Linked DNA regions of Homo sapiens: regions 1, 2, 3 and 4 are each reported to be linked to region 5. The links are microRNA targets in miRTarBase. Many come from high-throughput screens and were not tested one by one. Region 5 holds a microRNA gene; each other region holds the end of a gene's coding sequence.

Region 1 (5,107 bases), not on the chromosome of region 5:
TTGGGAGATTGGCTCATTAGTTTCTTATTTCATTACACACATGTTTATGGAGTAGTGGTTCCGTGCCATGCCCAATTCTGAGGATAAAAAACAATGAACAGGAGAGACAACATCTTTGTTCTGGCAGACATGAGAAAATATTTGTGCCCTGGTATGGAAAAAAAACACTTCCTGTTGATGAAAGGCAGGTATGATTGCAGCTCAGCTCCTCCGCTTCACACTTCCCTGTTAGATTTCATGCTTGCAAAGCAAGGAGATTTTACTAATAATATGCGGAAAGAGGAGAATGTATAGTGTGGCTTTTTGTTTGTTTTTTAAAGTCACATATTTAATCCTAGTTCAGGGTCACTGTGTTTTCATCAACTTAAAGAATCATTGTGACTCCCATCCTTGCCCAACCCATGAAAAATGGAATTCAGGAGATAGGCCCGAAAAATATTTTCTATATCTACATGAATCTCAAATCATCTTACTTGAGCATCATGGGTCACCATGAATGGGTATAGCATAGGCATAGAAACATATATATTTGGCCTGTCTTGTAGATTTTTGCCTACTCCTCCTTTATTTTTCTTTTTAAATTTCAGGTGGCCAGGAGATGGGGAAAGAGGAAAAACAAACCTAAGATGAATTATGAGAAACTGAGCCGTGGCCTACGCTACTATTACGACAAAAACATCATCCACAAGACAGCGGGGAAACGCTACGTGTACCGCTTTGTGTGTGACCTGCAGAGCCTGCTGGGGTACACCCCTGAGGAGCTGCACGCCATGCTGGACGTCAAGCCAGATGCCGACGAGTGATGGCACTGAAGGGGCTGGGGAAACCCTGCTGAGACCTTCCAAGGACAGCCGTGTTGGTTGGACTCTGAATTTTGAATTGTTATTCTATTTTTTATTTTCCAGAACTCATTTTTTACCTTCAGGGGTGGGAGCTAAGTCAGTTGCAGCTGTAATCAATTGTGCGCAGTTGGGAAAGGAAAGCCAGGACTTGTGGGGTGGGTGGGACCAGAAATTCTTGAGCAAATTTTCAGGAGAGGGAGAAGGGCCTTCTCAGAAGCTTGAAGGCTCTGGCTTAACAGAGAAAGAGACTAATGTGTCCAATCATTTTTAAAAATCATCCATGAAAAAGTGTCTTGAGTTGTGGACCCATTAGCAAGTGACATTGTCACATCAGAACTCATGAAACTGATGTAAGGCAATTAATTTGCTTCTGTTTTTAGGTCTGGGAGGGCAAAAAAGAGGTGGGTGGGATGAAACATGTTTTGGGGGGGGATGCACTGAAAATCTGAGAACTATTTACCTATCACTCTAGTTTTGAAGCAAAGATGGACTTCAGTGGGGAGGGGCCAAAACCGTTGTTGTGTTAAAATTTATTTTATTAAATTTTGTGCCAGTATTTTTTTTCTTAAAAATCGTCTTAAGCTCTAAGGTGGTCTCAGTATTGCAATATCATGTAAGTTTGTTTTTATTTGCCGGCTGAGGATTCTGTCACAATGAAAGAAAACTGTTTATATAGACCCCATTGGAAAAGCAAAACGCTCTCACTGAGATCAGGGATCCCAAATTCATGGGACTTATATAAGAAGGACAATTAATGCTGATTTGGGTACAGGGGAATTATGTGTGTGAATGTCATCTACAATTAAAAAAAATTAGCACATCCCTTTACTTACTTGTTATCAGTGGATTCTCGGGGTTTGGACTTAATGTTGAGCTAAGAAGCATTAAGTCTTTGAACTGAATGTATTTTGCATCCCTGGTTTTGGACGACAGTAAACGTAGGAGCACTGTTGAAGTCCTGGAAGGGAGATCGAAGGAGGAAGATTGACTTGGTTCTTTCTTAGTCCTATATCTGTAGCATAGATGACTTGGAATAAAAGCTGTATGCATGGGCATTACCCCTCAGGTCCTAAGAAATAAGTCCTGAATGCATGTCGTTCCAAACTAACACTCTGTAATTTTTCTTTTATGTCTTATTTTCCAAGAGTCCTCCATTTTTTGCACCCCCTCACCGCCAACTCTGTTATTCAGTAGAGAGAAGTGTACGGCTTTCTGATTGGTGAGTGAAAAAGTAACTTGAGACACGACCTAAGTTGAAGAGTTTAGACTTGCTGAGTTTTAGAAGTGATGGAAATTAAGAGAGCATTTCAATAAAATGTGACTTGGCTGTCTTTGGAAGAGAAGTGCAAGGCTTTCCTTTGAAGAATTTAAATTAGTCCGGTAGGATGTCAGGTGAGACTGTGTATGCAAAATGAATGGCACAGGTGATGCCAGGGCCTCTTGCTTGGGTCTGATGTCTTGGCACAGGGTAAGTGAAGGTTAATTCCAGAAGAGAGGAATGACTTGAAGGCAAAGGAAACTAAGGAAGGAGGTTCAGTGAGGAAAATAAGGTTGTCCATGAGATTTGAATAGATTTTTAGTTCCCCCAAGGTTTAAATACAAACATAGTCAAGCAAGGTAGTCATCTTTCTGCTGGTTGTGAGGGGGAATCTGAAAATGGAGTTTTAGAGGAAAAGTCAACATCTAACTAGTGAGGAAAAGTGCCTAATACAATTAGAATCTCCCTCACTCTATAGTTGCCCAGTTGAAAGGATAAGGAGGAGGGGTGGCTTTTATGGACTTCCATGAGAGAAGGAAAGAAATATTTCAGGTAAGCTTCTCAGGGCTGGCCCTTTTTGGGATTTGGATGAGAAATTGGAAGTACTAACTACTTTCTAGCATATCTTTAAGAAAATTGATTGTTATTTACTCCCAGATCCTCTTGCAGACCCAGAATTATCAGGAACATAGCTCTGTGATTCATGAGTGTCCCCATACTGATGAATTGGAGCATCCATATGGAAAGCAAAGGCAGAATTATCCCAGCTGTATTATTTTGATCTTTTGGATGCAGGTGCCTTAATGAAGCTCTCAAAATATTTTAGGAGCTGCTCAGGGAGTGTTGGGTGGAACTGTTTGGACTACATTGTTTTCTCTTAGATTATGTGATTTTTGTTGGGCACTGGCAAAAGGTGTGTGTGTGAATGTGTGCATGTGTGTGAATGTTGTGTGTGTGTGTGTGTGTGTGTGTGTGTGTGTGTGTGTGTGTGTTTGCAGACATGCAAAACTGCAGCTGAAATAATACCTTAGATTTCTAGGTAAGTCTTTCCACATTTCAATAATGGGTAAGAGTAGAACCAGGGCCGGGTATCAATTATTGCTTGCTGTTTGCAACCAGGCATAAAATCACTTTCTCAAATCATCCACCGTTCCTATTAAATTTATGCCGGAAACTCTCCTTCTGTGAGTATAACTCCTGCAGTTCCTATAGCAGATAAGATATAAGAAAGTGCCTCCTAGTGCTCCTCCGCCCGCTTGTTTGCTAAAATTCCCTTTCTCTCTAAGTCCACCATTTTCAAGATTTGTAGATAGTGTATTAGTTAAGACAGCTTTGTCGATCTGGCCAGATGTTTTTTCTCCTTTGTCCAAAGGCCAGAGACCATCCCAGGAAGAGTGGTGGGTGGTTTATACACTGGAAATGTTGCGTTTATGCTTTTTAAAAACACACGTTAACTTCAGAGGAAGGATGGGCAAATCTGGTCTAGCTGGGTGAAACCCTTATTTTCCCAGAGATGCCTTAACCTTTGTTGGTTTTGGCTTTAGGGTTCAGAGTCACTTTTGTTCCCTTCTCCATTCTGGAGAGGGACTTCCCCTACATAGAGCCCTGATTTTTGTGGCTGTGGGGATTGGAGGTAGCATTCAAAGATCAGATGTGCTTTTCCTCACTTTGGAGATGAACACTCTGGGTTTTACAGCATTAACCTGCCTAACCTTCATGGTGAGAAATACACCATCTCTCTTCTAGTCATGCTGTGCATGCCGCTTACTCTGTTGGGGTCTATATAAATTTGTTGAACTCTTACCTACATTCCAAAGAAGTTTCAAGGAACCATAAATATATGTATACATATACATATATAAAATATATATATTAAAATAAAATTATCAGGAATACTGCCTCAGTTATTGAACTTTTTTTTTTAAGAATACTTTTTTTTTAAGCTGAGAAGTATAGGGATGAAAAAGATGTTATATTGTGTTTGACTATTTTCCAACTTGTATTTTCATATAATTTATATTTTTTAAAAGCTGAAAATTTAGAAGCAAGATGAAAAAAAGGAAAAGCAGGTGCTTTTTAAAAATCAGAACTGAGGTAGCTTAGAGATGTAGCGATGTAAGTGTCGATGTTTTTTTAAAAAAAAATGCAAAAAAATTCTTATGGCGGAGTTTTTTGTTTGTTTATTTTAGTAGCTGATGCTGGCACATCATTTTGCTGGAGAGTTTTTTATATACTGTAGCCTGATTTCATATTGTATTTTAAACTGTGTGAAATTAAAAACAAAGAATTTCATTCATAATGCTGTGGCTTTGGCTTGATTCTTTCTTGTCTGGATCATGTATTAAAGCAGGACAAATCAACCAACCAGAGGCAAGCACAGAGGGATGCAGTTTAGTCTTTCTGATCTCACTAGCTCAGGACCATTGGAGATAAAGATTTCCTAATAAGGTGAGAAATATAACAGGAATATAGGGAAGTCATCGAACATCCCAATCTTTGAATATATTGTGTCATCCTTTGTGGAATGTCCCTGGCCTTGTCAGACCTCACTTCTTCATGTCCGAAGGACTAAGAGCCATGTGAAGGAAACGTTTAATGACTCAACAGATAAACATTTGATTTCAGCTACGTACCGTTCCTGATATGAATACAGAAAGTTGAACATCTTTAGTGGATCCTGTGGGAAATGAACAGTATTCTTGTGTCCACCACTGATACTAATTTTGCTCTATGGCAATTTGGGCCCTTCACATCCATCTCCTTGGCCCCAACTCTTTCACTGGGGCTGAAGATTGGGAATAATAATATCTGTCAGAACCCCTAGCAACACATGCCATAAATAAAATCATGTTTATAAGTGCTTTGGAGGGGAGTGCTTAGGAACACCTCATGCATGGTGCTTTTTCCTTGTTGCTGAAACTGTAGAAGGTGGATGTTTTTAATTAACACCAACATTTGCAACATGAATCCCAGCTCACAGCTGGAAAGAGAATTTTTGCTGAATTGT
Region 2 (5,107 bases), not on the chromosome of region 5:
CTCAGGGCCCACCACGCTCCTGGCCACTTAACTGTGCCGCTCTAACCAGCTGAGCGAACCTGTGTGCAGAAGGCATTGTCTGTCTGGCCTCAGAGTATTTGTTTTTCATATAGTCATAACTATGCTCAAATTTTGTAATTTAAAATATGGGTCTTTAGGACATAAAGTGAAAGAACGTGTGTGATTTGGCTCAAGATATAGATTGCTTTCTATACCATAAAATCTGTAGCTCAGATTCCTTTAAAAAATGAAACTCTCTCATACTTTCAGAAAGAGGGAAGGCCTCATAAGCATTTTCCAAATTAGAATTTTTAAACCAGAGAGTGAAAGTGATATGCATTATGTAGAATTTTAAGGATTTTGTCCCTATGGACAGGGGAGAGTGTGAGTAACTATTATGTGGGTGCCATAAAGGGAGTAAAGCAATGCTGCATAATCCATTTGTTTTTTAGACTTCTAGGTTGCTCCATGGGAATCCCTCAACTCAACTCATTCTCTCTGCTGCATTTCCTCTACAACAGAGCACCTTCCCTCAGTCACATCACCAGCAACATCAGTCTCAGCAACAGCAGCAACTCAGCCGGCACAGGACTGACAGCTTGCCCGACCCTTCCAAGGTTCAACCACAGTAGCACACGTGCTTCCTCTCTTGACATCAAGGGAGGAAGGGGATGGCCCATTAAGAGTTACTCAGATGACCTGAGGAAAGGAGGGAAAGTTCCAGCAGTTTCATGAGATGCAGTATTGAGTGTTCTAGTTCCTGGAATTAGTTGGCAGAGAAAATGCTGCCTAGTGCTACAGATGTACATTAAATACCAGCCAGCAGGAGGTGATCATAGGGGCATAGCCAGTTCTGACAGTGTTTTAGGTGCCTGGATATTTTTTGATGGAAAAAGAATATATTGCCAAATATTAAGAAGCTCAGCTATGAAATGACCTCCAGGGAATCAGAAAGGCACTAATGATGTTAGTAACTTTTAGTGGTTCTGTGCCTCTTATCAAGTGTTACAGAGGACATACCACTGCCATGTCAGGGGTTTGCTTACAGTGATGCCATGAAGACAGTCCAGTAGACTTGGTAGCGACCCCCTCCCCCAACCCCTCTCCCTTTTCAGATAATGATGGAACAGTAATTACTTTCAGAATGTTGTGTGGGTTCAAATTCTCTATGTACAGATGATGTAAAAATATGTATATGTCTAGATAAAAGGAGAGAAAGCAAAACATTTTGTATGCTGCATGAAAGCGTTATCTCTTCCTTACAGGTGTGAGCACCTTTCCTGAAATTCTGACACCATGTGCAAACTGATCCATCCTGTTTTTCCTTTTGTTTACAACACAGTAGTGTTCTGTTCACTTTTCCGGGGCACAAGTTTTTTTGTTCATACTTTGGCTGTGATGTCACAGTTTGTTCAGTGAGGTATGATGTGCTGCTGGGAATGGATTTTTTTTTTCAGGTTAAATTATTGATACAACAGGATTTTCAAGTTATTCAGAAATATCCCTCATTTCATTATTTTTCAATTATGTTTGAAAATAGGATTTGCACTGCTTTATTTTAGGTGGCTGGGAGTTTTGATTGCATATTTTGTTATAGTTCATAGTTGGAAATATTTGCGTAAATGGTTTTCAACAAGCCTGAAAGTAATTTCAAGAATGTTTCAGTTATAGAGGTAAAATTTGCACACAAAACATCTTAGGCACTTTTTAACATTCTCAATCATGGGAATTTTAACTTTTGGGATTTGTTGAAATCTTTTTTATTATCCTTCACAATTTCAATGCTTCTTTTAGTCAGAAATGATTCAGGGTTATTTGAGGGGAAAAAACCCCATAGTGCCTTGATTTTAATTCAGGTGATAACTCACCATCTTGAAGTCATTGTCCGGTTTCCGTAGCAGTTTTGAAACCTTAGTACCTTTTTAACAGCATGTGGGTGTCAGTGTCATTATTAGTCTCCTAATAAGTTCCTCTGAAGACTGCTATCAGTCTCTTGGACTGGAGGTACAAATAATTTAGAAATAAAAGATGATAACCTAACACTATCATAGTTATTAATGTGATCCTAAAATTGTTTCCTAAATCAGCATTTTTCTTTAGTCATTTAAGAATTTACCAGAAATATTTGCTCAATATGATCTTGATATTCCTACAAAGAAAAAAGAAGGGGTAGGGATTTGGCTATGCCTTCACTACAACATTAGAATATTGTAACTCACATGCCTTCTAAACGTGAACTAAGATTTCCTTTGGCAATATCATATTCTAAAAGTAATAAATTCCAATACAAGTTACATACATTTAAAAAACATTTTACAGATTTTATGGTACTAATGAAATTTACAGTGATAGAACAAAAGAGGATTAGTAGAAAATACATTATTAGAATATAAAAAATGTTATTACTGAGGAAAGGGAGGAGAGGACAAGTGTAATAAATCAAAATTGACCTCAAAAGAAAATGTGTAACAGAGTTGAGGTTGTTAAAACAGAAAAGGTTCTGAATAATGAAGATTAACCTAATGCAGAATTGCTAGGTAAAGAGGTCAGGGGAATGCTAAGCCAGTTCTTAAGACTTCTCTGTCCTCTGCTTTGCTGTTATCCTTAAGGCATATACTTTGTCTTTCTGCAGAAAATTCTACCTGGCTACAATTACTTTGAACATTAATGTTGAAAAAGAAAACAACCAAAGAAAATTGGTACTTACCCTTCTACAAAAGAAGTGTGACTAGATATCAATCAGTAATTAACATATCAAGGAGCTCTTCTAGCTAAATGACCATCCAGTAGAGATTTCCCACATTCCCATGAATATCAAGAATAGTTGTCAGAATATGTATGTACCTGAGCATATGTACACAGACAAGGGGGATGTTGTGGAATATGGCAATAGCATTGTTCTTCTCCCCTTTCAAATTGCCTTTCTTGACCTTATGCCATTCCATATATATCTGAGTTGTGCCTCATTTATTTATTGGCAATACCTAGTGATACGGATTTAGCTAACAAAAGATATGAAGAACTATTATATTGAGGCCTGTCCTCTACATACCACACTTAAAAGATGGTGAACTGTGAGTACTACTTAGGTTGACAGCAACAAAGCATAAGACAAGCCCCAGGTAAACGTCTAAACTGTTTACTCACATTGTCCTACTCCAGCCCCTTCAATTATTTCCCATCTCCACAAATAGTCGGGGGAAAAAATTAAAATTTTCCTTTATGATTCTTACTGTTCTTCGCAGCTCATCTTTTCCTGCTTAGAATTAACCATTGCTAATTTAAAGGAGCAGCTAGCTGCTTTTCTGTCAGTCTGAAGCGTAGTAGTGGAAGAGGTAGTAAGCACCAGCTGCCTCTTTGCTGCTTTGTTTTCCTCCTGATTCTCTTAAATTTGGGTTGCAAAGCTATCCCGCCCCCCACCCTGCCCCATGAAACTTGAGCATTCAAATGAAGATTCAGCAGTGTCTGTTCTTCATTTCTATAGCCAAAGCTGTTAGTTAAAATCCCAAATCTATAGCATTTAAAGATACCAAATAGAAACACCTTCCAGCTTTAAAAAAAAAAAAAAAAAAGTCTTCCCTCTGCTTTATTCTCACTTTCTTAAAAACACTTATTCTGGGTGGTACTTTTTAGGTAAGAAACTACTGAGTTTCAGGAAAAATGCTAGCTACTCTGCAGTTACCGTGCTTTGGACTTGCAGTTATCATAGTTTTGGGAGAGTCAGTATTGTTTAACAAATGCAAGTGAGAACTAGAAGGGTTAATAAAGTTGCTCCTTAGAGTGGTGTCAAACCAGAACCGAGACACTTAAAAAGTACTTCATTTTTTGAATGGAAAATATTGGAGAAAAGTATGGGAGATGCAGGTAGCATGTGAGTAAATACTACGGTCTAGCCTTCGAGCATCCCAAATTCCGGGGGTAACTTGACAGTGCTGTGCTCTCCTTTGTCATTTATATCTGGCTTAGGAATGGAATAGTAATAACAAGATGCCAGTGATTTGGAATAGTTTGTTATAGAACATTCAGTGCAAAATAGTGAAAATGTTTGGTCTTCAGAAGTGCTGTAGTTGTTGGTCATTGCCTTAAAGCAGTCTGCTTGACGCTAGGAGCACTGAAGCAGTCCAGCTCCATCAAGAGCACTGTTGAAGGGAGAAGAACCCTTGTTCAGGAAGCCTTAGAAAGGGATCCTTAAAATAGTACTCTACGCAGACAAGTGAAAATTCTTTTAAACTGGATATTACTCAACATGTTTTCAGATGTTTCCACTACATTGAGGCAAACTTTTTAAAAGTGGAATGCAAATAGCATTTTACTTTAGTATTTCTGCTTTTTTCTTTCTGTTTCTTTGGTAATTGAAAGTTTGTTGATGAATATTTGTGTAAAACGCATTCAAGTCTATAACCTTTCCAATTACCTGTGGCCCTTAGTCCCACAGGAGTCCCTGTTGGAAGGGGGTAAACACTGGATATTAATGTTGCTGAGTGAGTCTTTCTAGCCAGGACAAGCTGATTGGAATTTTTGAATGGTAGAGAAGAAACAGCACAAAGGCACTTGCCATTTTAAGTGTTTGGAGAAAGAGAACCTTTTAAGTTTGGATTGGGTGAGCTTTCTTCTAAAAGGAGCTTCTGAAGTAATTGCAAAGGAATAGAATCGACTATTTTTATAGTATATTTAATATATTTGTATATAACTATAATAGGAACCCTCTACATGCCTCCCACTTTTCTAATTTACTTCCCCTTTTGCCATAGCACTAGTATAGCCTCATCCGCATGGGTAATGTGCCTATTGTCAGCCTACCAAAAGATAGTGCTGCTGCTTTATGAGACAGGTGAGAAGACCCAACTCTCATGCCTGGGGATCCTTTACGGAAGGAATAGCACACACTTTTAAAACAACATACCACAGTCTAAAAGCATCATTTTGAAATGTAACAAGCACTTTATTGCAATTACTCATTTTGATAAAGTTTATTCTTAGGCGTTAACCATTTCTAAAGGATCCCCAAATCATCACTTACTTAGGTGAAATTATATAAAATGACACATTTCTGAGAAATGTTTAGGTCCAGTGAACCGTAGTTGGTTTATGGGAGTGATTTCAAGAT
Region 3 (5,107 bases), not on the chromosome of region 5:
GGGAAACGTTTTGTTATCAGCAATACCTGCCATGGATTCTGGGGTTTAGTGTCACTACGTGTGTTCTCTTTGGCCTGAGGAAGGATCTGTCCATTGACTTTGTTTTTCATGTGTTTTTCCTTTCTAGTTAAAAACTTCTTCAGAGTCAGTTTCAAAAATGGATCCCAAAGTCAGACCCACTCGCTACAAGCCAATGACACTTTCAACAAACAGCAGTGGCTTAACTGTATTCGTCAAGCCAAAGAAACAGTTTTGTGTGCTGCCGGGCAAGCTGGGGTGCTTGACTCCGAGGGATCGTTCCTAAATCCCACCACCGGGAGCAGAGAGCTACAGGGAGAAACAAAACTTGAGCAGATGGACCAATCGGACAGTGAGTCAGACTGTAGTATGGACACGAGTGAGGTCAGCCTCGACTGTGAGCGCATGGAACAGACAGACTCTTCCTGTGGAAACAGCAGGCACGGTGAAAGTAACGTCTGACAGAAGCATGTGCACTTCGGGAAGCAGGCCTGCATCTTACCTGTACAGTATTTGCATTCCACAGATGGAACGGTTTGGAGAAGCACTTTTTCATACTTTTGTGAAAGTATACATGTTGGCCCAGTCTCTCGTATCTGTACCTTTGTCCCTAGTACTGTAACTGCCAATCTGTCTGTGTAAGCTGGAATCTGTGGCAACTATTACCCTGTGTTGTATTTCCCAAGTGTCTGGATGGATGGAGAGGTACTCAAACAAGTTACTTTCAGTTGTCCTGCTGGATTTTAAAAAAATAGAAAAAGAATCTCAAAACTACTGTTTTACATAGATTGTTTGAAGAGTCCTTCCTCTTGTGCTTCTGTACCACTTTCCCAGCTCTTAGATGTGGTAGCTAAAGGCACGGAATTTAGACGGCCTTGTAAATAGGGCATGAGGAACTCATCTGTGTATTGGGATGGTATTAGAGAGAGAATCAGGAAAGACCAACTCATGAAGTGAACTTGGTTTGATCTTACTCAACTAGAAAGCTTGAAAACATCCCTGGGGATTCTGAAGGCTTAATTTTGCAAAGGAGGATGCATTGTCTGAACTTTGCAACTTCATCCAGTGCAAGTTTGATGCAAGAATGTATTAGGACATAAAATAGAGGCTGACCTTAAAAGGGCCAGGACAGAAGCGGCTGCCAGCTCTGAATCTTTAACTGAAATGCACATGGCACCAGGAGGTGTCTCTCATAGTTGGTTGCTAGCCTAAAACATCAGAATAGAACCCAAAGGGCTTAGGAAGGCCTGCCAGGATAACAAGAAGGCCCTGTATTCATTGTGTTTCATCTGCCTAGGCCTACTCATTATTTTAGAGAATGAATGAAGCAACAAGGAAGAGAGACCATGACTCTATCGATGACACTGTTTATAGAAACACAGGAGAGGAAGAATTTGGAATGAAAAGCACTTCGTCAGAACCTTCTGTGGGAGCCATTGAGAGAAAAGCATGGTCCAGTGCCTTCTGAGAAAGGCCAGAGCTTTGGGCTTTCCTGCTCTGCTTTTGGGTCGTCAATTTGCCATCTCTGGTTCTGTGCTATAATCAGAATTGTAATTATGTTCTCCAGAGGCCAATTTCATTAACTCTGATTAATTAGAATCAGCTAGCCAGATTAGTAACCTCTTTGTCCAGCCTTGATTTACAGTGCAGGGTAAAGTGCAGACCTTAAAAACAGCTAAGTACCTAGAAGAGCTCCCTGCAAGTGTAAATATTAAGGATGACCTGTGCAAAATTATACCCACACCAGCACTAGTGGTAATTATTCTAAATTATTGCCAAAAAGTTTTTTTTAATCTGTCTTTCAAGTTTACAGAAAAGAAAGCAGTAAATGCATTGATGTCATTTTATTATGTACATATATCATGTGCATTCAAGCTGTGTGACAAGATATATCAATATAAAAACAAGGTATATACTTTATTATTTTTTGAAAACAAGGATATTGTGATCAATTTTACCCTGTAAAACATATTTCTGTATTTATAGGTCTTAAACATGATGAATTTTTTCTATTACAAGTTTATTTAAAACTGCTTTCTCAAGTCGTTATTGATACAGCAAGTGAACCTGCTGCAGACAGAAGCAGAGGAAAGCCAAGAACAGCCTTTATTGGTGAAGAAAAGAATGAATGATTCTTTGTAGGCGCCATCAGCCACTTTTAGAAGCCATCAGCCAGTGTGTTGGGAAAAGAGGTTTGTCAAGTGTTGGCCTATGGGAAGGTGGTCAATGAATGTTTTGATGAAATGAATGTTTTTGTATAATGGCCTTAAACTTTTCTGGAAGTATTTCAAATAAATTACATTATTAAGTCATCCTCCATGTGTACAGTGTTTGTCCTACAAACAAAATACAGGTTTCAGCTGTGTTCCTGGGGAGGTTCTTTCTGAAATTTTTGTTTGTGGTTCCTGAATACAAACTTTAAAATAGGATGCAGATTGATACAAATGCTTTTATTTGATCTATCAAAACTTTCACAGAACTCATTTTTTTTTTCTTTCTTTCTTTTGAAACAGGATCTCACTCTGTCACCCAGGCTGGAGTGTGGTGGTGTGATCATAGCTCACTGCAGCCTCAAATTCCTGGGCTTATGCAATCCTCCTGCCTCAGCCTCCCAAGTAACTGGGATTACAGGTACACACCACCACATCTGGCTAATTTTTAAATTTTTTGTAAAGATTGAAGTTTCACTATGCTGCCTAGGCTGGTCCTGAACTCCTGGCCTCAAGTGATCCTTCTGCCACAACCTCCTAAAGTGTTGGGATTACAGGCGTAAGCCTCTGAGTCTGTCCAAGAACTCATAATTCTAAAATCTGTTTTCTCAAGCATTCTCTATTCATTCACTTATTTATGTGTTCACTTTTAATAACTCTATCTGGAATCCATACTATGTATAAAGTCAAGTGGTAAGTCATAGTTGTTATAGAAAAGAAATGTTGAATCTCACTGCTAATATAGGTAACTGTTGAGGAACTTGAGGCTAAATAAAAGAAGGCAAATTTCACTTTGAAATTCTTACTGGAATTTCAGTCTACTTTAATTAAAATGATTAGTACTCTTTCTAGTCTGAGCACAGTGGCTATACCTCTAATCCTAGCAGTTTGGGAGGCCAAGGCAGGTGAATTACTTGAGCCCAGGAGTTCAAGACCAGCCTAGGCAACATGGCAAAACCTCATCTCTACAAAAGCACAAAAATTAGCCAGGCTTGATGGCATGTGCCTATAGTCCCAGCTACTCAGGAGGCTGAGTCGGGAGGATCCCTTGAGCCTAGGAGGCAGAGGTTGCAGTGAGCTGTGATCACACCATTGCACTCCAGCCTGGGTGACAGAGTGAGAACCTATCTCAAAAAAGAAAAAAAAGATTAGTACTCTGTCCCACAATGAGTGAGGTTTTTTAGATGAAAAGGCTAAACATTTTTAAGCTGTTAGTAGCCAATTCTCAATAGCACATTGGCCCAATAAGGCTGGTAGTTAGTCTTATCTTTACAATAAGCTCTCACCATTTTCTTTTTTTTCTTTTTCTTTTTTTTTTTTTTTTTTTTTTGAGACAGTCTCGCTCTGTCACCCAGGCTGGAGTGCAGTGGTGCGATCTCAGCTCACTGCAAGCTCCACCTCCTGGGTTCATGCCATCCTTCTGCCTCAGCCTCCCAGGTAGCTGGGACTACAGGCGCACGCTGCCACGCCCGGCTAATTTTTTGTATTTTTAGTAGAGACGGGGTTTCACCGTGTTAGCCAGGATGGTCTCGATCTCCTGACCTTGTGATCTGCCTGCCTCGGCCTCCCAAAGTGCTGGGATTACAGGCCTGAGCCACCACGCCCGGCCAGCTCTCACCATTTTCTTTAACATACTGTTAATTCCCAAATTTGGCAAGATATTCACATAAATAAATATAAGTCCAAATTTTTTCCCAAATGCAAAGTCGCTTCTCCTAATTTTTTTCTTCCTCCTCCTCCTCATCTTTTTTGTCCGTCCTCTTTTCTCACTGCTGCTTTGGCTATTCCCTCTGTTTTTCACTCCTATAATTGTACTGACTGTCAATGCTAAAGGATGTATCTTACAGTATATTAGAAGATGTTTGTACTGACATTTTGTGGGTTAGTACAAATGAGTGAGGGCTAAATGGTTTTTCTTCAGTCAATTTTCAAGATGTTATTTCACATACAACTAGATGTAATCCTTGCAGTCTAAATGAAAACTCATAAGCAATGAACAGAGCCAGAACTAGCAATTTTCTGTAAAATTAGAGCATGGTTTCAGCTTCTGGGTTGTGGTCACCGCCACTGACTGCTTTAGTTTCCATTCCCAGCACAGTCTGCGGCAGCTAAGAATGCACAACTCTTCATAACCACAGCCCTGTTTCAACAAAGACTGTGTGGCTGCAGGAAACTGCAACCCACCATCTTGGTGAAGAGCCTGTTCAACTTTCCATTTACATTCTGTCCATGTCCGTTTTTTACTAATTCTCCCAAAGCCTGAGGACTCTCAAAGATTTGGCAAAGAAACTGTCTGGCCAATCAGTTTCACTCACCTGGTTCCCCTTGGCATTGAGGAGAGAAGACACTGAATACCCCCCCTTATTGATGCAGCTGATTCAATTAATTCACACTAGCTTGTTTATTGACAGAATTCTAGAACTACACTATTGGAAGGGAAGAGGGTTACCCAAGCCCAAACCTACCAGTAAAAATCTGACAATCATCAAAATTTAAAACCTTGTCCGCATGAGCACACAGTGAGAAAAGGTGACCGTATTCACTGTACCTGAAGGGTATTGAGGGAAACAAGTTGGAAAAAAAAATGCTCATGACATCATATCTCCTTTCTCCAGGCTTGGTTCATATATCAGTCAGCTGCACAGACCTACCTAGTCAAAGCAGTTTTCAGTTGACGTGAGGGAATAGCAAGGAATTAGAAGTCATGCACTGTATCTTTAAGAGCTAATCACTTAGCCTAGGAAACTGGACATGCATTCCAAAGCTTGTCCACATGCAAACATACCTAGGTATTAATGAACTGTGCTCTCTCATCTGTGAAAGGTTTGAAAATGACATCCTACAAGTGTTTTATTCTCTGTTGCCAGGGACACTGGACC
Region 4 (5,107 bases), not on the chromosome of region 5:
ACCTGGGACATGCAGTACTCCCAAGTAATGCCAGGGGCCCCATTTTGAGCAGATCAACCAGCACTGGAAGTGCAGCCAGCTCTGGGAGCAACAGCAGTGCCTCTTCTGAACAGGGACTGTTAGGAAGGTCACCACCAACCAGACCAGTCCCTGGTCATAGGTCTGAAAGGGCAATCCGGACCCAGCCCAAGCAACTGATTGTGGATGACTTGAAGGGTTCCTTGAAAGAGGACCTGACACAGCACAAGTTCATTTGTGAACAGTGTGGGAAGTGCAAGTGTGGAGAATGCACTGCTCCCAGGACCCTACCATCCTGTTTGGCCTGTAACCGGCAGTGCCTTTGCTCTGCTGAGAGCATGGTGGAATATGGAACCTGCATGTGCTTAGTCAAGGGCATCTTCTACCACTGCTCCAATGACGACGAAGGGGATTCCTATTCAGATAATCCTTGCTCCTGTTCACAATCACACTGCTGCTCTAGATACCTGTGTATGGGAGCCATGTCTTTATTTTTACCTTGCTTACTCTGTTATCCTCCTGCTAAAGGATGCCTGAAGCTGTGCAGGAGGTGTTATGACTGGATCCATCGCCCAGGGTGCAGATGTAAGAACTCCAACACTGTCTATTGTAAGCTGGAGAGCTGCCCCTCCCGGGGTCAGGGTAAACCATCATGATTTTTGGAGGTGGGTTGTACCTCCTGAACTTTTAGCTTTCAAGTTGTGGCTGTTTTTTGTTTTTGTTTTTGTTTTTGTTTTCTTTAGAATTTTTCCCTGTTTCCCACCTTCTCTTCCCCTGTTGCCAAGGTCTAACTCATGGATTTTTCTCTTTCCTCATGGATGATCTTCAGCAAGAGTGGACTGGGAAGCTGCACCTGGCTCCCACTTTCAACAAGAGCCTCTGCCATCCACTTGAGGGTATTGAGAGCCAGTGGGCTTTTGTGTAGCCTTTTTGTTCTGCAAGCAACTTTCTAAAGTTGTGTACATGAACATACACCCACATCCAGACTACAGTGATTTAGAGTTGTTTTGATTGGGTACCGTGGGAGCAGGGAAATTGGTTTTTTAAAAAGCAACTGTTTAATTGCTTAAATAAGCTATGTATTAAATCTGTCTCCAGTTAGGGCTATCTTCCTAGCATAGGCCCCTTAAGTAGCATGGGGGATATATTTTTTGCTATAACGTAAAAATTTTCCTTTAACCACTGCCCTCTCCTTCTTTCTCCTTCAAGGTTCTTTCCCCCTCAGTTTTGTTGTTGTCTTACTCTGGAGATGCCAAGTGTATTTTTTCTTTCTATGTAATTTTAGATTCGCCTTACAATGTAAATCTTCACATTGGAGATAATATTGGTTGGACCTTGCCCATCTTCACTCTAGCCTTCGTATTTGTGAAGGACTCAGCCACCTTCCTTCTTCACCCCATGCTTCTCACCAAATTTTTGTTGTCATTGAGGGCACTTGGATAACTCAAGTTGATATTTATAGCTGATCAATCTATATGTGTCACAGAACTATGCTGCCTAAAGTGATCTTGGCTCCTTAATGGTCCTTTTGGCCCCTTGGATAGTTAACAGCTGAGTAATTCTAATCTCTTCTGTGTTTTCCTTGCCTTAACCACAAATTGTGGTGCTTTTTGTATATTTTATGTATAAATCACAAAGTTGAATTCTGACTATTTTTAAGACAAAAGTCTGTTAAACTTTTTTATTGTAAAGAATATTTATTATGCGAATCTCTATTATTTTATGGTATTTATTGCAAAAGACTGTTGAAATGTACTCATGTTTGAATATAACAAAATATCAATACTTAACGGAAAATAAGGTGACACGAAGAAAGTACATATGTTAACTATAATGCAGAAAATATATTAATTAATGAAACTGTCTCTCGATTTCTTCATTTATTAGCCTGTACTATTATGATGATTTTTGCTTATTTGCTTTGACTTTTTCTTCTTACACACCCATTTTACTTCTTTCCCTATAGATGTTGAATCTAGACATAGGTGAGCCCAAATTATGAACTGGATAATTAGGTTGGTGCAAAAGTAATTGCAGTTTTGGGTCATTTTTAATGGCAAAAACACAGTTACTTTTGCACCAACCTAGTATTTCCTGGAAAGTGCATTAATCAAAATTTTGTAATCCAAATTATCTTTTAACAAATGCTCAAGTGAGTTATTTTGTACAGTAAAAATTTTTTGTAATACTCTCTCCCTACTTTGACTATTTTGTAAGCATGAGGTTTTGTGTATATTATAGTTTCTTGAAATGGGGCATATCTACAGTAGAAGCTTTTTTAAATGTTTATCCTAACTTTTAAGTTAATAAAAAGTTAGATTTATCAGCTAGACTTAATGAACTTAGTTCTGTAGATATGCTAGGAGTCGCTGGTACTGTCACTTTAATAAAGCATTCTAGAAGTTACCAAGGGAATAATTCACAGTATCAGAGACATTTCAAAAACATTCCTGTCCCTGTCTTTTCACTTGTTTCGTAAGTCTAATGTGGCCTGACCAAATTACACCTCATCAAGTCCTGTGCAATAAGAAACCTGAAGGCCTAAAATTTTACGTAGAAAAAGTGTTTTAAATCTTATTTTTTAGGCTGGTGAAACCACTACATAGCTGGAATCTTTGGGTCTGATAAAATATTTGGTCATTTGAGTCCTCAGAATACACCGTTTTTAAGTTTGATAAAATTTTATTCATGTGAGTCCTCAGTCTCACTAACTCCCTAAGTGATACATCAGTCATTATCTGCATTTGAAAATAATTCTTTGCATTTGAGAATAAGATACTGACATAATTTGAACCCAGGTTATCAAAGCTCTTATCCAGCTTTTTGTTTTGGTCATTATTCATGGATGGCTCGGCTGTTAGTTTAAGACTACGTATTTGTTCTTTGTAAATAGGCTTTGACTTTGTTTTATATAGACAAGGTATAATTGGTAGAAACTTGTTTTAGTCCTTTTCCATCAAGCCGCTAAACCTATTAGTTGGCAATGTGATATTTAATCCATCAAATATTTCCTTTATGCTTTGAAAGCAGGAGGATTTTTAAAAGTAAATAGTTGTTTTGGAGGCTACTTCATGATCTGTAGCACTTAAAAATGTGAACTTGAGTGTTTTCCTCTGATATTCAAGTTATGTGATGTTATCACTGGTCCTTTCATATTTATAGAGTATTTTCATTGAGATGTGGCTTCTTAATGAAGTATATGAACACAGACTTCTTCAAAATACTCTTTGGGGCTTTTTTCCGGTATTATTCAGACCCTTAGTATAATTAGTTGGAGTCAGAGCTGTCTTTAGCTGTAATAACCAGACTAAGAAGCAGTAGCTTTTACTGAAAGAAATTTATAACTTTTATGAGAATGAAGTATGCTGTGGAGTTTTAACTTCTGGCTATATATATGCAGAATACATGAAAAATATTAAGATGCTGGTCTGCTGCTTCGAGGACTGTATATGAACTCTGGCATAATGGCAAGTCTGTACTTGGAAGGAACGATCGGTTAGAGGTTCAGATTTCTAAGAGGCTTGTCAGGTGGCAAAGCATAAACACTGATTCGAAATGTCCTCCTTTGTGATGGTTTAAACCTAGGAAGAAGAAATATAAGAGTGTGTCCTCATAAGAGCTTATGGGCCCTAGGCTCTTGAACCTAATGCTGATCATCATTTTAAAGTGCTTAGACTTTGAAAGCATCAGCTGAAATTTTTTACAATGCCGCTGCCACTTATTTAATACTGTTGAATGAAAAACAACATGCCAAACAGATGGGATAACCTTTTTATTCCACACATTTGTCCCTCTTCCCCTACTAGTACAGCTTGACAGAATGGATGTTTTTGTTACCTGGTTCCTTTCCAGTATATTTTCTGACTGCCAATTTTTTCATTTCAAACAAGCCTTATTTAGATAGTTTAATAGTGAATAAACCAACATAGGACTTTTGTAATTGAGTAGTTTCCTGTTTACAGAGTTTATAAAATGTAACCTAGCAGAAAAAATGGAATGTGAAAAAGTAGACTTTTTTGTGTGTGAAGACCTAAAGTGAATCTGCAAATATAGGATTATAATTACATGGTTTCCAAAATTCAAACCACAAAATATTTCCATTATTACTAAAAAATAAAAATTAAAGCTTTAAAAATAATGGTCTTTAAAGTGAAAAATAAGTTTAAAACTATGTTTTTATCCTAAAATCGATAATGAAACCAGACTCAGGTGATTAATTTCCAGAGGATTTAATTTTTGAAATTATCCATTTTTCCTAAATCTTTTTTTAATGGAGTGGTGTATTTCGTAGCAGACTATCTATCGATATCTATAGATAGATATCTCATTAAAAAACAATCCCTTTTGAAATATATTGAAATATTGAAACAAACTGGAAAAGTGTCTAAAAGCAGTTCTCATCCTAAACTCTCACTATACATTTTCTTTTTAATTGGCAAGAGTGTTGGTGTTTTTAAATATGTTGAAAACAAAATTTTTAAGTCCTTTTGGCTAATTGATGGTTGGATGGTTGTTTTTTCCATTACTTCACTGATTAGCTATAATCAAAATAGCCATGTATATACTTACCTGATAGCTATTGATTCTTATAGTAGTCTCTCAGATTATTACTAAGCCATTTTGCTATTATTGAACACCTCATAGGGGCATTATTCTGTATACAGTAGAATTCTAGAACTAGAAATATATCTTAGAGTTTATCTTAATGTTTCTCAATCATGTATGAAAAGAAATAGATATCTAGTTTAAAAATTAAAAATTCAGAAGTGTGTGTCATAGCTCAGACCTGTATTAGAATAATCTCCGGGGGTGGGGGCCTGGTATTCGTTATTTTCAAAAAGCTTTTTGGGTGATTGTATCAGGCAACTTTGGAACTGATTTATGTAGCTCACTGTCTTCATTTTGAAGATGTACAAACAAAGTCATGGCTTGAGAAGAAAAACTGTCCATGTTTTAGCAAGGGTAAAGCCTGAACTCTTTCATCTGACACAGGATTTTCTTCATTTCTTGTTTGTTTGCTTTTTGGGATGAGGTCTCGATCTGTCACCCAGGTTAGAGTGCAGCAGTGGCTTGATCACCACTCACTGCA
Region 5 (5,107 bases):
AGTCAGGTGTAAACAGGCGTCCAATCAAGGACCTGCGGTGGGGGGGGGGGGGGGGGGCGGGCTGTTGCCCTGGGGTGCGCGCGCACACAGGCGCGCCCTTGGATTCACGTGTGCCAGTTTTCCCACTTTCTACGGGGCGGGGTGGAAAGTGAAAATAGTCAGATCGACAGGTGGATATCCACCTTCCCAACCTCCACCTGAAATGTGCCCATCGAGTCCTAGCACCTTTTACCATTTCTTCCCAATGAAAAAAACTAAACGATGGAAGGGAAGGGAGTACCCACGACCACCAAACCCTGTCCTCTGCAATGTGAAATGTGCTTTGAAGTCCTCTCACCCTGAGGCTTGCCCGCCTTCTGCTGGTGAAAGAAGCTGGGGGCTAGGCGCGGTGGGTCACGCCTGTAATCCCAGCACTTTGGGAGGCCGAGGTGGGCGGATCATCTGAGGTGAGGAGTTCCAGACCAGCCTGGCCAACATGGAGAAACCCCGCCTCTACTAAAAATACAAAAATTAGCCGGGCATGGTGGAGGGCGCCTGTAATCCCAGCTACTTGGGAGGCTGAGGCAGGGGAATCGCTTGAACCCAATAGGCCGAGGTTGCAGTGAGCCAAGATCAGACCATTGCAGTCCAGCCTGGAGAACAAGAGTGAAACTCTGTCTCAAAAAAATATAAGAGAGAGAGAGAGAGAAAGCAGGGAGGGAAGAAAAAGGAAGGAAGGAAGGAAACGAGGGAGGGAGGGAAGGAGGGAGGGAGGAAGGAAGGAAAGGAGGGAGGAAAGGAAAGAAAAGGAGAAAAGAAAGAGAGAAGGCCGGGCGCGGTGGATCACACCTGTAATCCCAGCACTTTGGGAGGCCGAGGCGGGCAGATCTCGAGGTCAGGAGATCGAGACCATCCTGGCTAACACAGTGAAACCCCGTCTCTACTAAAAATACAAAAAATTAGCCGGGCGTGGTGGCGGGCGCCTGTAGTCCCAGCTACTCCGGAGGCTGAGGCAGGAGAATAGCGTAAACCCGGGAGGCGGAGCTCCCAGTGAGCAGAGATCGCTCCACTGCACTCCAGCCTGGGCGACAGAGCAAGACTCCATCTCCAAAAAAAAAGAGAATCAGCTGGGTAGAGGAGACGTACCTGACTGTCTACCCCATGACATGCCCCATGCCCCAGGGAAAAAAATTCCCTAAAGCATCTGATGCATAACGTGAATGCATACACATTTTTTAAAAGGTGGGCCAGGATGCTCCTTAAACAAGTGCCTAAACCTTATCTGCATAAGGAGTCTTAACCTATCATTTTATGTTGCAAAGAAAACGTCTTTATATATCGCTTGTGCAATTAAAAATTGTTACCAAAAGTACTTGAAGATTACGAGGAGTTGACACCTCCACACACATGCATATCCCCTCCACCTTGGGCTCCTTGCTTATGGCCACCAATCCCTCACTAAGGGAGGATCTTGCCAGTTCTAAATGATGGGGACTACAAAAATTACAAAAATTACCCGGCGTGGTAGCGCGTGCCTGTGGTCCCAGGAACTCAGGAGGGTGAGGCAGGAGGATGACTTGAGTCCAGCGGGTGGAGGCTGCAGTGACCTATGATCCTGCCACTGCACTCCAGGCTGGGCTGCGGAGGGTAGGGAGGGAGGGAGAAGAAGAAAGAGAAAACGCGGGGCACCATGGATGGCTGACTCCTGTAATCCCAGCACTTTGGGAGGCCGAGGTGGGTGGATCACTTGAGGTCAAGAGACCAGCCTGACAAATATGGTGAAACCCCGTCTCTACAAAAAAATACAAAAATTAACCAGGCATGGTGGCGCACGCCTGTAGTCCCAGCTATTTGGGGAAGCTGAGGCATGAGGATTGCTTGAACCCAGGAGCCAGAGGTTGTAGTGAGCCGAGATCGTGCCACTGAACTCCGGCCTGGGTGACAGAGCAAGACTGTCTCAAAAAAAAAAAAAAAAATCATTTAGATGAAGTGATTCATGCCTGTAATTCCAGTGATGGGAGGCTGAGACTGGAAGATCCTTGAGCCTGGGAGTTATAGGCCAGCCTGAGCAACATAGTGAGACCCCCATCTCTACAAAAAAAATATTAAATTTTTTTTTTCAGACGGAGTTTCACTCTTGTGGCCCAGGCTGGAGTGCAATGGTGTGATTTCAGCTCACTGCAACCTCTGCCTTCCAGGTTCAAGTGAGTCTCCTGCCTCAGCCTCCCAAGTAGCTAAGATTACAGACACATGCCACCATGCCCGGCTAATTTTGTATAAAAATTTAAAAATTTTTAAAATTAGACAAGTTAGAAATTGCTTGAGCAACTGGACACAATCTCTGGTACTACCTTTCTTTTTCTTTTTTATTTTTTTATTTTATTATTATTATTTTTTGAGAAGGAGTCTCGCTCTGTCGCCCAGGCTAGAGTGCAGTGGCGCAATCTCGGCTCACTGCAAGCTCTGCCTCCCGGGTTTAAGCCATTCTCCCGCCTCAGCCTCCCGAGTAGCTGGGATTACAGGCGCCCGCCACCAAGCCCGGCTAATTTTGTTTTTTTGTATTTTTAGTGGAGACGGGGTTTCACCGTGTTAGCCAGGATGGTCTCAATCTCCTGACCTCGTGATCCGCCCGCCTCGGCCTCCCAAAGTGATGGGATTACAGGCGTGAGCCACCGCGCCTGGCCCTCTTTTTCTTTATTGGTCAAAATATTATCCAACTAGGCATATGGATGTGGAGGCATGCCTGTGATCCCAATTACTTGGGAGGCTGAGGTGGGAGAATCGCTTGAGCCCACGAGTTTCAGGCTGTGGTGAGCCATAATGGTGCCTCTGCACTCCAGCCTGGGCAACAGGATGAGACCATTTCTTAAGGGGACGGAAAAAATCACTCTGGCTGTGGCAGATTTCCTTAGGATAGATTCCGAGAAGTGGAGTTATTGGGGAAAAGGCTGTTAATGATTTTAAGTCTTTGGATACAGACTGTTAAGTTGCTTTCCAGGAAGTTTCTGCCAATGATAGTGTGATACTTTCTGTGTCCTCACACCACCCTTTGTCAACACTGAGTGTTTTTGAGGGTTAATTATTTCTATGAGAGAAGTTAAAAAAAAAAAAGACAACAAAGAAATTGCTTCAGGTGGGGCATGGTGGCTCACGCCTGTAATCCCAGCACTTTGGGAGGCTGAGATGAGAGAATCACTTAAGCCTAGGAGGTGGAGGTTGCAGTGAGCCTAGATCGTGCCACTACACTCCAGCCTGGGCAACAGAGTGAGACTCCATTTCAATAAAATAAATCAAATGAATCAAACGTGAGCAACTCTCATAACTTCCAACATTTTTTTCTTCTTCCTGTTGGTGGTTCTGCCTCTCTGGCTCCATTAGGATTTCCCTACTCCATTTCAGTCATGGGAGCCGAGTTTCTGTTCCTGAAACACACCAGGCCTTTCTGGCCTCTGGATTTTTGTACTTGCTGTTCCCGCCATCTGGAATGCCTTCCCTGCATTTGTTCCCATCAGGGTTGGGACTAGCAAAGTGACAGGTGATGGAGTTGCTGAGGGTGCAAAATTTAAGGAGGCACCTACTCCCAGGGTCATGCAAAAGCCAACTTTGCATTTGCACAATCCTGTGAGTGAGTCCCTCCTTAAATTTGAGGCTGTACTGTAATCCCAGCTACTCAGGAAGCTGGGGCAGGAGAATTGCTTGAACCTGGGAGGCAGAGGTTGCAGTGGGCCGAGATCCTGCCATTGCACTCCAGCCTGGGCAACAGGGCGAGAATCCGTCTAAAAAAAAAAATGAGGCTCTAGGCACCACATTTGCCCTACTCTGGCCCCTGCCCTGATTTTCCTGGCCTGTCTCATCTCCAGACAGGTTTGCTTTGACCTCCCTGCCCATAAAAGCTGGCCAGTGCCCTTTCCAGGTACTCTGTCATATACCCTATTTCTTTCCTTGGTAGTACCCAGCACCATCTGCAAGTATTGGGTTTCTTTGCACATTTAGCATCTGTCCAACCCTTAGTATATCAGCTTTGCAAGAGCAAAGGTCACATCTATCTCAGCCTACCTCCTCCATACTCAGCACACAGCACAGCACCTGACCATAGGAAGCACTCAAGAAATGGGAGGAATGAAATGGAAATTATCTAAAATAAGGATCAAGATTGATACAGAAGTATTCATCTCAGTTTTACTTATTAATAGCAAAACAAAAACAAAACACCTGGAAACTATACTAATGCTCAACAATAGGAAACTGATTAGGATGCAGTACATTCAGAGCTGAAATTTTCTGCAGCCATTACAAATTATATTTGTGAAGATTTTTTTTTTTTTTTTTGAGATGGAGTTTTGCTCTTGTTGCCCAGGCTGGAGGGCAATGTCTCGATCTCGGCTCACTGCAACTTCCGCCTCCCGGGTTCAAGCGATTGGTCTGTCATTTTCAGACCCCACAGAAACACAGGTGCTCCTGCCAGGCCCCCGGGGACTGCCTCCAGGAGTCATTTGTAATGACAGGGTGCGTTCTGCGCACGGTTTCAGAGTCTGTCCAAAGGGCCAATGCTGGGGCTGGGGCAGAAACGGTCCAAGGCCTGTGAGCTGTGCAGCTTTATAGGCAAATGAAGATCGTTTACCCAGAATTGCCTGCTGGAGAGAGCATAGAGGAAGTGGCGGCAGCTTCACCAGTTCCAGGAAGCCCAGGCAGCCTGGTCCCCCAGGGTGCACCTGGCACAGCAGTTCGCACAGGGCCAGAGAGCGGCAGCTGACCGCTGCAACTACAGCTGGCCTGACACCGGGCACAGGTACCAGCCCAGCCCAGTCCCGCCCAGCGCAGCCTGCGGCCCCTAGCGGAGCCAGCACCTGGCAAACCTGACACCCAGCCTTGGAGCTTGGGCCCCCCTCTGCAGCTGGCTGGGGCTCCTGAGACAGCTTCTTTGTCGGAATCCACTCGGTACACACACGGTCCCTAACTTAGTGGCTGCCCAGTGAACATGGGGCTTAGTAGAACCAGTACCTTCCTCCCTGGCCCCTTCAAGTCTAAATATCCCCTGCTCTGAGTACAAGCTTCCACCTTCTCCACCGACAGACAGCCCCCACCATCTCCACCGACAGACAGCCCCCACCATCTCCACCGACAGACA

The links. The annotated mature microRNA hsa-miR-3680-3p reads UUUUGCAUGACCCUGGGAGUAGG and lies in region 5 at 3,553-3,575, opposite strand. An mRNA with a match to its seed (bases 2 to 7 or 8) in the 3' UTR can be bound and repressed. Matches are read on the target gene's strand: a 7mer-m8 pairs with bases 2 to 8, a 7mer-A1 pairs with bases 2 to 7 and ends in A, and an 8mer does both.
Region 1: miRTarBase lists ETS1 as a target of hsa-miR-3680-3p. Seed matches in the 3' UTR shown: 8mer at 2,247-2,254, 8mer at 3,101-3,108 and 8mer at 4,244-4,251.
Region 2: the mRNA of CLOCK is a reported target of hsa-miR-3680-3p. Seed matches in the 3' UTR shown: 7mer-A1 at 4,027-4,033 and 7mer-m8 at 4,296-4,302.
Region 3: miRTarBase lists ARHGEF3 as a target of hsa-miR-3680-3p. Seed matches in the 3' UTR shown: 7mer-A1 at 1,744-1,750.
Region 4: miRTarBase lists SPRY1 as a target of hsa-miR-3680-3p. Seed matches in the 3' UTR shown: 7mer-A1 at 1,752-1,758.

Annotation. Positions count from the first base shown.
Region 1 is chr11:128,458,057-128,463,163 of GRCh38, reverse strand. ETS1 (ETS proto-oncogene 1, transcription factor) reads left to right here. Exons shown (of 10, transcript NM_001143820.2): 10 at 588-4,399. The coding sequence ends at 803. Among named protein-coding and RNA genes, the nearest start is that of MIR6090, 62 kb to the left of the region's middle.
Region 2 is chr4:55,430,940-55,436,046 of GRCh38, reverse strand. It overlaps CLOCK (clock circadian regulator), which reads left to right. Exons shown (of 23, transcript NM_004898.4): 23 at 453-5,107. The coding sequence ends at 632. It also overlaps a transcript of TMEM165 not described here. Among named protein-coding and RNA genes, the nearest start is that of TMEM165, 38 kb to the right of the region's middle.
Region 3 is chr3:56,724,643-56,729,749 of GRCh38, reverse strand. ARHGEF3 (Rho guanine nucleotide exchange factor 3) reads left to right here. Exons shown (of 10, transcript NM_019555.3): 10 at 128-2,330. The coding sequence ends at 480. Among named protein-coding and RNA genes, the nearest start is that of TASOR, 44 kb to the right of the region's middle.
Region 4 is chr4:123,401,878-123,406,984 of GRCh38, forward strand. It overlaps SPRY1 (sprouty RTK signaling antagonist 1), which reads left to right. Exons shown (of 3, transcript NM_001258038.2): 3 at 1-1,878. The coding sequence ends at 674. Among named protein-coding and RNA genes, the nearest start is that of SPRY1, 7.6 kb to the left of the region's middle.
Region 5 is chr16:21,502,512-21,507,618 of GRCh38, forward strand. It overlaps MIR3680-1 (microRNA 3680-1), which reads right to left and starts at 3,624; the gene lies at 3,538-3,624. It overlaps LOC124903662 (a long non-coding RNA gene), which reads left to right. Exons shown (of 2, transcript XR_007065024.1): 1 at 1-6. RefSeq lists an enhancer at 1-504.